2 separate regions of the Homo sapiens genome follow, and region 2 is reported to be linked to region 1. Evidence: microRNA targets listed by miRTarBase, many of them from high-throughput screens and not tested one by one. Region 1 holds a microRNA gene; the other region holds the end of a gene's coding sequence.

What was found. Region 1 holds the annotated microRNA hsa-miR-1914-5p (CCCUGUGCCCGGCCCACUUCUG, at 2,624-2,645, opposite strand). A microRNA usually pairs through its seed, bases 2 to 8, with sites in the 3' UTR of a target mRNA and lowers its output. Matches are read on the target gene's strand: a 7mer-m8 pairs with bases 2 to 8, a 7mer-A1 pairs with bases 2 to 7 and ends in A, and an 8mer does both.
Region 2: the mRNA of ERF is a reported target of hsa-miR-1914-5p. The part of its 3' UTR that is shown has no 7-base or 8-base seed match.

What each region holds. Positions count from the first base shown.
Region 1 is chr20:63,938,888-63,943,262 of GRCh38, forward strand. MIR1914 (microRNA 1914) reads right to left here and starts at 2,657; the gene lies at 2,578-2,657. UCKL1 (uridine-cytidine kinase 1 like 1) reads right to left here. Exons shown (of 15, transcript NM_017859.4): 9 at 2,223-2,321; 10 at 2,063-2,156; 11 at 1,907-1,969; 12 at 1,707-1,829; 13 at 1,491-1,598; 14 at 1,263-1,419; 15 at 942-1,168. The coding sequence ends at 1,089. MIR647 (microRNA 647) reads right to left here and starts at 3,839; the gene lies at 3,744-3,839. RefSeq lists enhancers at 3,431-4,144, 4,145-4,375.
Region 2 is chr19:42,245,020-42,249,394 of GRCh38, forward strand. It overlaps ERF (ETS2 repressor factor), which reads right to left. Exons shown (of 4, transcript NM_006494.4): 4 at 2,550-4,375. The coding sequence ends at 3,446. Among named protein-coding and RNA genes, the nearest start is that of GSK3A, 4.6 kb to the left of the region's middle. RefSeq lists a silencer at 2,138-2,432.

The DNA of each region.
Region 1 (4,375 bases):
GAAGACCGGCCTTACGCCGTCCCTCCCTTCGTCAGCAGACCCCTGTCCAGGATCCGGGATCCGGCATAATCGAGGTGCCAGGCTCCGAGGACGCCACGCTTTTGGCCGTGGACTTCCACGCAGAAAGACACTGGCGCCTGAGAGGACGGGGACGACCGTGTCCCGTGTCAGATGCGCCTGGCCCACGGCTGAGTCCCCAGCATCAGCCCTCAGCTCCACGGCTGAGCCCCGGGAGGCTGATTCAGTTATCTGGGCCTCTCCGGGGCCCGACGTGTGGGCGCCGCGCGTGCACCTCCTCTTCCTCAGTAAACCACGGCGGCGACTCCTCTCGGGGAGCCCGGGGGGGGCCTGCTCGGAAAGCAGGGTGGGCAGGACCTAAGGGAACCCACGCTTGCGGGCGTGGGCACGGCAGAGAGCACGGGATGCGGGTGGGCCTCCAGGTCTGGAGGGGTGAGCGAGGCGGGCCCTGAGCAGCAGTGGCTCCGGGCTCGTGGGCCCCGGGTGGCCCCGCCTCCAAGCGCAGGCCCCCACTTCCGCCCTGGTCTGCCTCCTGGCTTTGCTGCCTCCAGCGACTTGTCCTGACGGGAAGGACCCTCCCCCCCCCCAACTGTGGGGAGGACCCTGATGGTACAAATTTGTGGGTGGGGGCAAAACAGCCTGCCTCTTGTGAGACCCAGAGCACCAGGGGGCCCTGTCCCCTCCCTAGGTCCAGGCCAGGTGGCCACCAAGCTATGGGTTCTAGGGGCCCCATCTAGCAGAGCTAGGAGCTGCAGGGCCCAGTTCTACCCCTTCCTTCATCTGGCACAAGTGCAAGACTGGGAATGCTTGGTCCTGCAGGGGAGAAGGCAGGGCCCTCAGCTCCCTCCCTCCCTCCCCATGGGAGTCTCCACAAATGCATGCCTCAGCCAGGACACCTCTCCTGTGCTGTAACCAATCACACCTTCATTTTTCTAAAGCTTTATTTATTTTATAAAATGCATAGAATAAATTATACTAGTAACATTTTAAAAATTAACATCTTTGTATTCAGCAGTCCTGGGTCAGGAGGCAGGAGGAGGGTGGTGGGGACGGGATGGCTCACTGGGCAGCTAACCCGTGTAGGCCACTTCCTCCTCGTCACTGCCATCGGGGACCGCGTCTGTCCCAAAGTAGCGGTCGCCAAAGTTCCCTGGAAAAAGGGGGGGGGGGGTCCAGTGTGGTGGGGCCTCCCAGGGCCACCCACCCTGCCCTCATGTGCGGCTGAAGGGCCCGGGCAGCCTCACCAATGCCTGGGATGATGCGGAAAAGGTCATTGACCCGCTTGTCCACCGCCGTGGTGATGATTCTCACTCGCGGAAATGCATAGGCCACTGAGTGCACGCCCATCTCTGCCATGAGCAGCGACAGCAAAAAGATCTTGTCCTCAGGCACGTCGTGGTCCTACCGAGTGTATTGGGCAGGTAAATCCCACCTCTGCCTGAACCTGCCCCGCCTACCCAGGGCTCACTCACCAGGAGCACGCGCACTGCCATCATGGCCGCCGCGCCCGTGGACACGGTGCAGTCCATGAGGATCACGTGGTCATCGCTGATGTCCTTGGGCAGCCTCAGGTAGTGGAGCTGCGGGCAGCAGGGGTCAGGCTGCAGGTGGGGCTCCCTGCGTCCCCTTGCTGTGAGCTCCCTCTGCCCCCTACCCCCGGGCTCATCACCCCGGCTGCCCCCAGGCACCTCGGGCTCCCCGGTAAGCTGGTTGGTCTGGATGAGGATGGTGCCGATGCGCACGTCTTTGCACACAGCGCGCAGCGCGGGCTCCATGGTTTCACCGGCGCGCAGAATGGACACACCGGTGATCTGCGGGGAGGGGAGGCTAAGCGCCCACATCCCGCCCCAGCAGCCTGTCCCGCGCCCAGGTGTGCCCAGGCAGGTACCTGCTTCCCCGCATAGCACTTGCCCGCATAGTCCTGCCCCTGCGGGGTCTGTACGACGCAGTCCTGTGGGGTGCAGGGTGAGGACTCCGGTGAGCGCAGGGAGCTCGCACCGGCTCCAAGACCCACCCTCCACCTCGCGGGCTACGGGCTACGAACCTGAAAGGGCAGGAAGGAGAGCGCGTGCTCGATGAGCAGCCGCATCAGTCTCTTGGAGTAGAAGATGAACTCGTCGCGACTGGTCTCCTTGTCCCTGTGGGGCCAACAGTTGAGCGGGAGCACGCGCCCGGGGCCGCCCCGTCCCCAGGTGGGCCCTCACCTGATGATGGTGTGCATGCCCCGTACCTGCGGCGTGCTCTTCAGGACGCTCAGCGTCCGGGGCAGCGGGTGGCACTGGTGTGCCGAGGCCAGCGCAGCCCTGGGGACAAACCGATGGGGAACACTCAAGAAGGGGGTCTTTTCCCAGAGCCCTCCCTCCCCACAGGACGGCTGTGCGTCACTGTGAGGGGAACACACGGGCCAGGCACAGCACGAGGTGCAGAGCGGGCCTGACTTCTGCCTGGGGCTGAGCTGGGGGGAGACGTCGCCCTACCTGAGCTGTCAGGCAAAGGCGAAAGATGGCGGCGAACAACGGGGCAAGCTCACCATCAGGCAGAAAGCTAGCGGGGTAGGCTGTGAGGGCCCCTCCCAGTGCGGGACCCCTCCTGCGCTAAGAGGAAGCAGAAGTGGGCCGGGCACAGGGCGGGCTCACACGTGCTGATAGGTGTCATACCCCAGAATGGGTAGCTTGTCCCCAGCCTCTCCCCGGGGGAACTAAAGCTTTGTGGGGTCAGGCCCCGCCCTGGCTCCTCCCCGAGGTGGTGCGCGGCCCCTCAAGAGAGGGGGGTGGGGGGCAAAGCTGGCTCAGTGTCTCTTGGCTGTCCCGTCCCGCCCCGCTGCCCAAGCCTGGGGATGGCCGGGGCAGCAGCAGGTCTAGGAGCGGGCAGGAAAAGGGCGGGGTGGAGGCAAGAAAGAGGTGGGACAGGGAGGAGGCAAAGCCGGAAAGGGGCATGACAGGGGCAGGGAATGGGGCGGGGCAGGAAAGGGGGTGATGCAGGGGCAGGAAGAGGAAAGCGACAGGCCACAGAATTGGGTGTGGCAGGGGAAGGAAAGAGGCAGGGCACGGAATTGGGTGTGGCAGGGCAGAAAAGAGGCGTGACAGCGGCAGGGAAAGGGGCGGGGCCGGGAATGGGGTGTGGCAGGGCAGAAAAGAGGCGTGACAGCGGCAGGGAAAGGGGCGGGGCCGGGAATGGGGTGTGGCAGGGCAGAAAAGAGGCGTGACAGCGGCAGGGAAAGGGGCGGGGCCGGGAATGGGGTGTGGCAGGGCAGAAAAGAGGCGTGACAGCGGCAGGGAAAGGGGCGGGGCCGGGAATGGGGTGTGGCAGGGCAGAAAAGAGGCGTGACAGCGGCAGGGAAAGGGGCGGGGCCGGGAATGGGGTGTGGCAGGGCAGAAAAGAGGCGTGACAGCGGCAGGGAAAGGGGCGGGGCCGGAAATGGGGTGTGGCAGGGCAGAAAAGAGGCGTGACAGCGGCAGGGAAAGGGGCGGGGCAGGAGCAGGAAAGAGGGCCTAGCGGGAGCAGCGGGGCAAGGGGCTACGGGAAGGCGGGTCACACAGCAGCACCACGGAGCACACTGCTCACATATCCCAACGTAGCTTCCTCTGCTTGCCAGGTGAAGAGCATGTTCAGGGAGGGAACAAGGCAGGAAACGGGGGTTTACAGAGAGAAGGAAGAGAACAAAGAGAAGGCTGCTTAGTTGGGGAGCAGGGCGTTCCCCGCAGGCCTGAGGAGGAGTGTGGGCGGTCAGGCCCCCAGCCCTGCCTGACCCTCCCTCCTGCCCCCGACCAAGGCTTCCTGGGGCTGAAGGAAGTGAGTGCAGCCACAGGCCAACACTTCCTTGGCTGACCAGACGACGGAAAATGTGTCTGGCTGCGTTCAGGTGTTTTTCCAAGTTTGAAACCCTGGAAAGTTTTTCCTCTCAGAACAAAAGCTTCAGGAGGAACCTGACGGGACAAGACCTGCGGGTTCCTAGGCCGAGGAGAGGGCCAAGCGGAGACTCATGCAGGCACCGGAAGCTGGACGGCTGGTGGACGGGCCCTGGAGGCATTTCCAACATTTGGCAAACTCTTTGGAGGGCTCTGAATGTGAGGGCTCTCCCTCCAGGTGGCTCAGTCAGGAGCCTCCCAACCCACAGAAGGCAGGGAGAAGGGCAGGTCCCTTGTGGCTGACCCCCCTGCATGCCTGCCCTTGGGGAGGGACAGTGGGATGCGGCCCCGGCCCAGCCCAAGCTTCTTGCTGCAGTTGCCCAGTTCCTGCTGGCAGAGCTGTGCGGGCTGCGAGGACAGAGCTGGGGCAAGCAGGACCCGGGTGGGTGGGAGGACAGGCGCGAGGCCCTCCACCTGCAACCAGGGAAAGCTGACTGGTCCGTGAGGCT
Region 2 (4,375 bases), not on the chromosome of region 1:
AGGGCGGCGACATGGGGCAGGATAGCGAGGGTTATTTAACCGCCAGAACCCGTGGGGCATGCGCCGCTGCGTGTGGGCAACCGCCACGAGGGGATTGGGGTCCGTGGGAGTTTGAAGGTGACGGTCTGCAATCTATCAGGATGTTTGTAGAGGATGAGAATGTTCATAGAGGGATGCTAGGAAGGGTTGTAAACGTCTGAGAGAGGCCTATGGGTGTCTAGAAGGGCTAAGAGGAGTCCGTGGAGTGGTGAAGGGGTCTTTGATGAGCTTAGTTGACAGGATAATTACTGGGGACCAGTGGAGAAGCCTGAGGGGACTTAGGCTGTCTGCTAAAAGTTCTATGGGTGGGTGGACGCGATGGCTTACACTTGCAATCCCAGCACTTTGTGAGGTCAAGGCCGTGGATCACTTGAGGTCAGTCAGAAGTTCGAGACCCGCCTGGCCAACATGGAGGAAACCCCATCTCTACTAAAAACACACAAAAAAATTAGCCGGGCGTGGTGGCCCACGCCTGTAATCCCAGCTACTCGGGAAGCTGAGGCACAAGAATCTCTTGAACCTGGGAGGCTGAGGTTGCAGTGGGCTGAGATTGCACCACTGCACTCCACCCTGGGCAACAGAGTGAGACTCTGTTTTGAAAAAAAAGAAAAAAAAAAAAGGTCTATGGGAGACAGAAATTACTGGTGACCAAGGGGATCTCTGAGCGACCTGAAGGGGTGAGGGATGGTTGAGAAGCATTGGGAAGGGGCTTTGAGAGTCTGTGGAGGTACTGGGGCTACACGTACAAAGCAGGGAGGTCTCTGATGAGATTAATTAATATGTGAAGTGCCTTGAGAGCATCTGTAAAGGGCTTTCTACTTGGAAGCAAGGATCTCAGAGGATATGGATGGGACCAAGGGTGTCTTCTTGCAGGAACATTTCAAGCCAGCTAGCTAATAGATTTAGGTGGGCGATTAAAGGTTAGAGTAGCCGCTGGAGTTTTCAAGGCCAAATGCCACCTGTGACATCCTACACAGCCAGAATCTGGGGCAACTTGTCTGGTAGGGCTGTGGTCTGACCTGGACAGCAGTTAGGGAGCTGAGCTGAGCACTTATGATTCCATATTAGATGTGGTTAGAGGTGCTTTGAAGGCACTGGGTTCAGGGGCTGAGGCCAGTAGTTAGGGTCCTCTCCTCCCGAGTGACAACATCCCCTTCTCCATCACCCCACCACCACCACCAACTCAGCTGCAACTATGTTGCCAGGAGACATGTCTCATCCCAGCTTCCAGAAATAGCCCAGTGGCCCCCACCCCAGGGAATGACTTACATCACCCAGGAGAGGGAGCAGTTTCCCGCAGGCCGCCTCGGGAGCCTCGGTTTCCTGCCAGTATCCTAGCCCTGGATCCTCTCTTCCCTGCCAACCGACATCATCTGGGACCACCCACCCTGGCTGGCATGAAATGAGATGCGAGTGGGTAGCAGTTGCCAGTCAACGTTTCTTCCCCCTCAGGGTTGCACAGGGTGGAGTTTCATGGCGAAGCCAGTCCAACAAGCCCTCAATTGCCACTCCATCTCTTAGCAGCTGTGTGGCCTTGGGGAAACCCCTTCCCCTTTCTGGGCCTCAGGCACCTCACCTGCATGGTGGAGACAGAACTTGTCTCTAAGGGTACTTCCAGCCTGGATTATTCCTCCTAATTCTTTCATCCCTGATTCAAGCTCTCCAATCTCAGCTTCTAGCTCTATGAGCTCATCTCAAATCCTCTGATCCTGAAAGCCTGATCTGGATCCAACTATCTTGGTGTTAGGAAGGAAAAGTCAGGAGTTGTTGAAAGAACGTGGGCTTTGAAGTCCTGGCTCAGCCACAGGGCCCTGGGCAAGTCACTTAGCAGCACTGGTTGCCCCTACCTTACTGGATACTGAAGGAGCTACAACACTGCAGCTCTTAAGTATTGGACACACAGTAGGTCAACAGCATCGATGACTAGTGAGCCAGTCCCTTGGCTGTGTGCTGGCTGGGGGTGTTCCCATACCTGGACCTGAAGATCACCAAGTTACCTTGCAAGGTCTACATTTCAAGAGACACCACAGGCTGTTCTCCAAAGGACTCCCAGCTGAACTCAGAGCAACAAGAGAGGGGTGTGGGCAGGGTGCGAGGGGCAGTGCAAAAGGGAGCTCCTGGTCTTCACTGGGGACCTGGGGTGTGGGAAGAATTCCTAGCCACAAGTGGGAAGGCATCCAGGCAATCAGAAGAGCAAGGGCAGTGGGGTTGTGGTGAAAAACAGTGGGAAGAGCTTTCAAGGACAAGGTCCCCATGGAACAGAGGAGCAGTCTGATGAAGCCGGCGCATGCCTGAGACCACTATCATCAAGCTCTGGGGCTCATGTGCCTCTGAGGTCAGGAGACGGTTTCCCAGGCCTGGATTTGGCCCATTCTGATTAGGGTTAGGCCCTCTATACTGATCTGGCCACAGACCCACTAGCAGCCAGGGTGGGGCCCCTCCTTCAGAATCAAGCAAAAGCTGTGGCCCTCAGGGGGCTGCACCGAGCACCTAGGACATTGATCACTGCATCCAAAGGTCCAAAGTTTTATTGTTTTGAATACATTCTCCAGCGGCCCCTCTACTCCCCCCACCCTCAGTCCCCAATACAGAATAAGGCTTGACCACAGCCCCCCACCCCACCCCAGAGGCCCCAGCTGGGAGGCAGAGGGGGCTTCCAGTTTGGTTTCAGGGCACCCCCTTCCCATCCCCCCACCCGCCTGCCCATGGGCCAGTCCTAGGAGCAGCTGGGGATGAAGGGGTTGGACCGGTGCTGGGGTGGGGAGTGGGAGAGGGATAGCAGGCACTTGTAGAGATTTGTGGCCCATGGGCGGCACCCCTCACCCTCCTCCGCCCCCCACCCCCCAACACATGGAATTTTTGGTTCATTATAAAATTGTCCCTCCCTCCCCTGCTGTGACCTTGTGGGGTATGAGAAACCTAGGCACTCATGGCCCCCTGGAGGGGCAGGGCAGGCAGGGCTGGGGCTGAGGAGGGCTGGGAGTGGGGCAGAGCGGGTGGGTCAGAGGGGTACAAGAGGCAGAGAACAGGGAGGGAGACAAGGCTTTACTTCCTAAGCGATTGTAATAGAAAAGTTCCTGGGTGTTAAGGCCAAAGCCTCAATTCAAATATAAATTCCCCAGAATGGAGGTGACCCCCTTAACTTCCCCCTCCCTCCCCCTACCACCACTTTGCCCAGAGCTTAGAAACCCACAGAGACAGGGAATAGCCCCTAGCCCTGGGCACCCACCCACCCCCACCATTTTTAAAAAAAAGAAATTAAAGTTTTATACAAAATGTGGGGAGGGAAAAGGGAGGAGGCAGGGAAGAGACAAGAGAGCTGCCCTCACCTCCAGGGCATAGGGGGCTTAAGGCAGCAAAAGAAGCATGGGGGGTGCGGGGCACACAGGTCCCCTGCCCACAGCCCTCAGGAGTCTCGGTGCTCCAGGGAGAGCTGGGCCGTGGCATGCTGGAGGTCAGAGCTCACCCGCCTTGGGGTGAGGGGCCCCCCAGCCTCCCCAGGCCCCTCCCCACGCACCTTCTTGTCCTCACCCTCATCCTCAAAGCCCCCAGCGGGGCCCCCACCCCCTTCGAGGCGACAGTCTTCACTCCAGCGCCGCTTAAAGCGTAGCTTGAGGGGCATGCACTGGGATGCCCCGGGTGCCTCGCCGGGCTCAGGCTTAGGGGGTGCAGGTGGGGCACGGGGCGTCTTGAACACCTCCCCGTCTTCCTCATCCTCATCACTGATGTCAGTCACCTCTACCTCCTCCGACTCGCCTTCCGAGATGGGCTCCACCTTGATCTGTGGTGGCGGGGGCGGTGGGGCTAGCGCCCCTGCCCCCTCAGCCAGCCCGCCTGCACTGCCACCGCTCTTGTCAGCACCGGCTACGGCCTTCTCCCCAGCTGCCCGCTGCCGGCGTCCGAGTGGGGGCGGCTGGAGCTTAAACTTGAATGGGGAGGAAGAAGAAGAAGAGGATGACGAGGCCGAGGAGGGGACCGGTGGGGTCTCGGGTGCCATGGGCGGCAGCGGGCACTTGTCAGGGCGCTGGGGCTGGGGCACCACCAGCCCAGGGTAGTGCAGGAAGGCGCGGGGGCTGAGGTGGTAGTTGTAGACGCTTTGGGTGTGGGCCTGCAGGTACCGTTTCATGTCCTCAGGGCTGAAGGAGAAGTGGGAGCCTCCCCCTGAGCCGCTGGGCCCCCCGCCACCACTGGGGTACATCGGGCTCAGCGTGGGCGAGGGAGTGTAGGCCAGGTGGGTGGGCGTCATGGGCAGAGCCGGGGAGAGCTGAGGGGGCAGCAGGGATCCAGGACCGGCCAGAGGCGACACAGGGAAGGGGCTGAGGGGTTCAGGGCCACC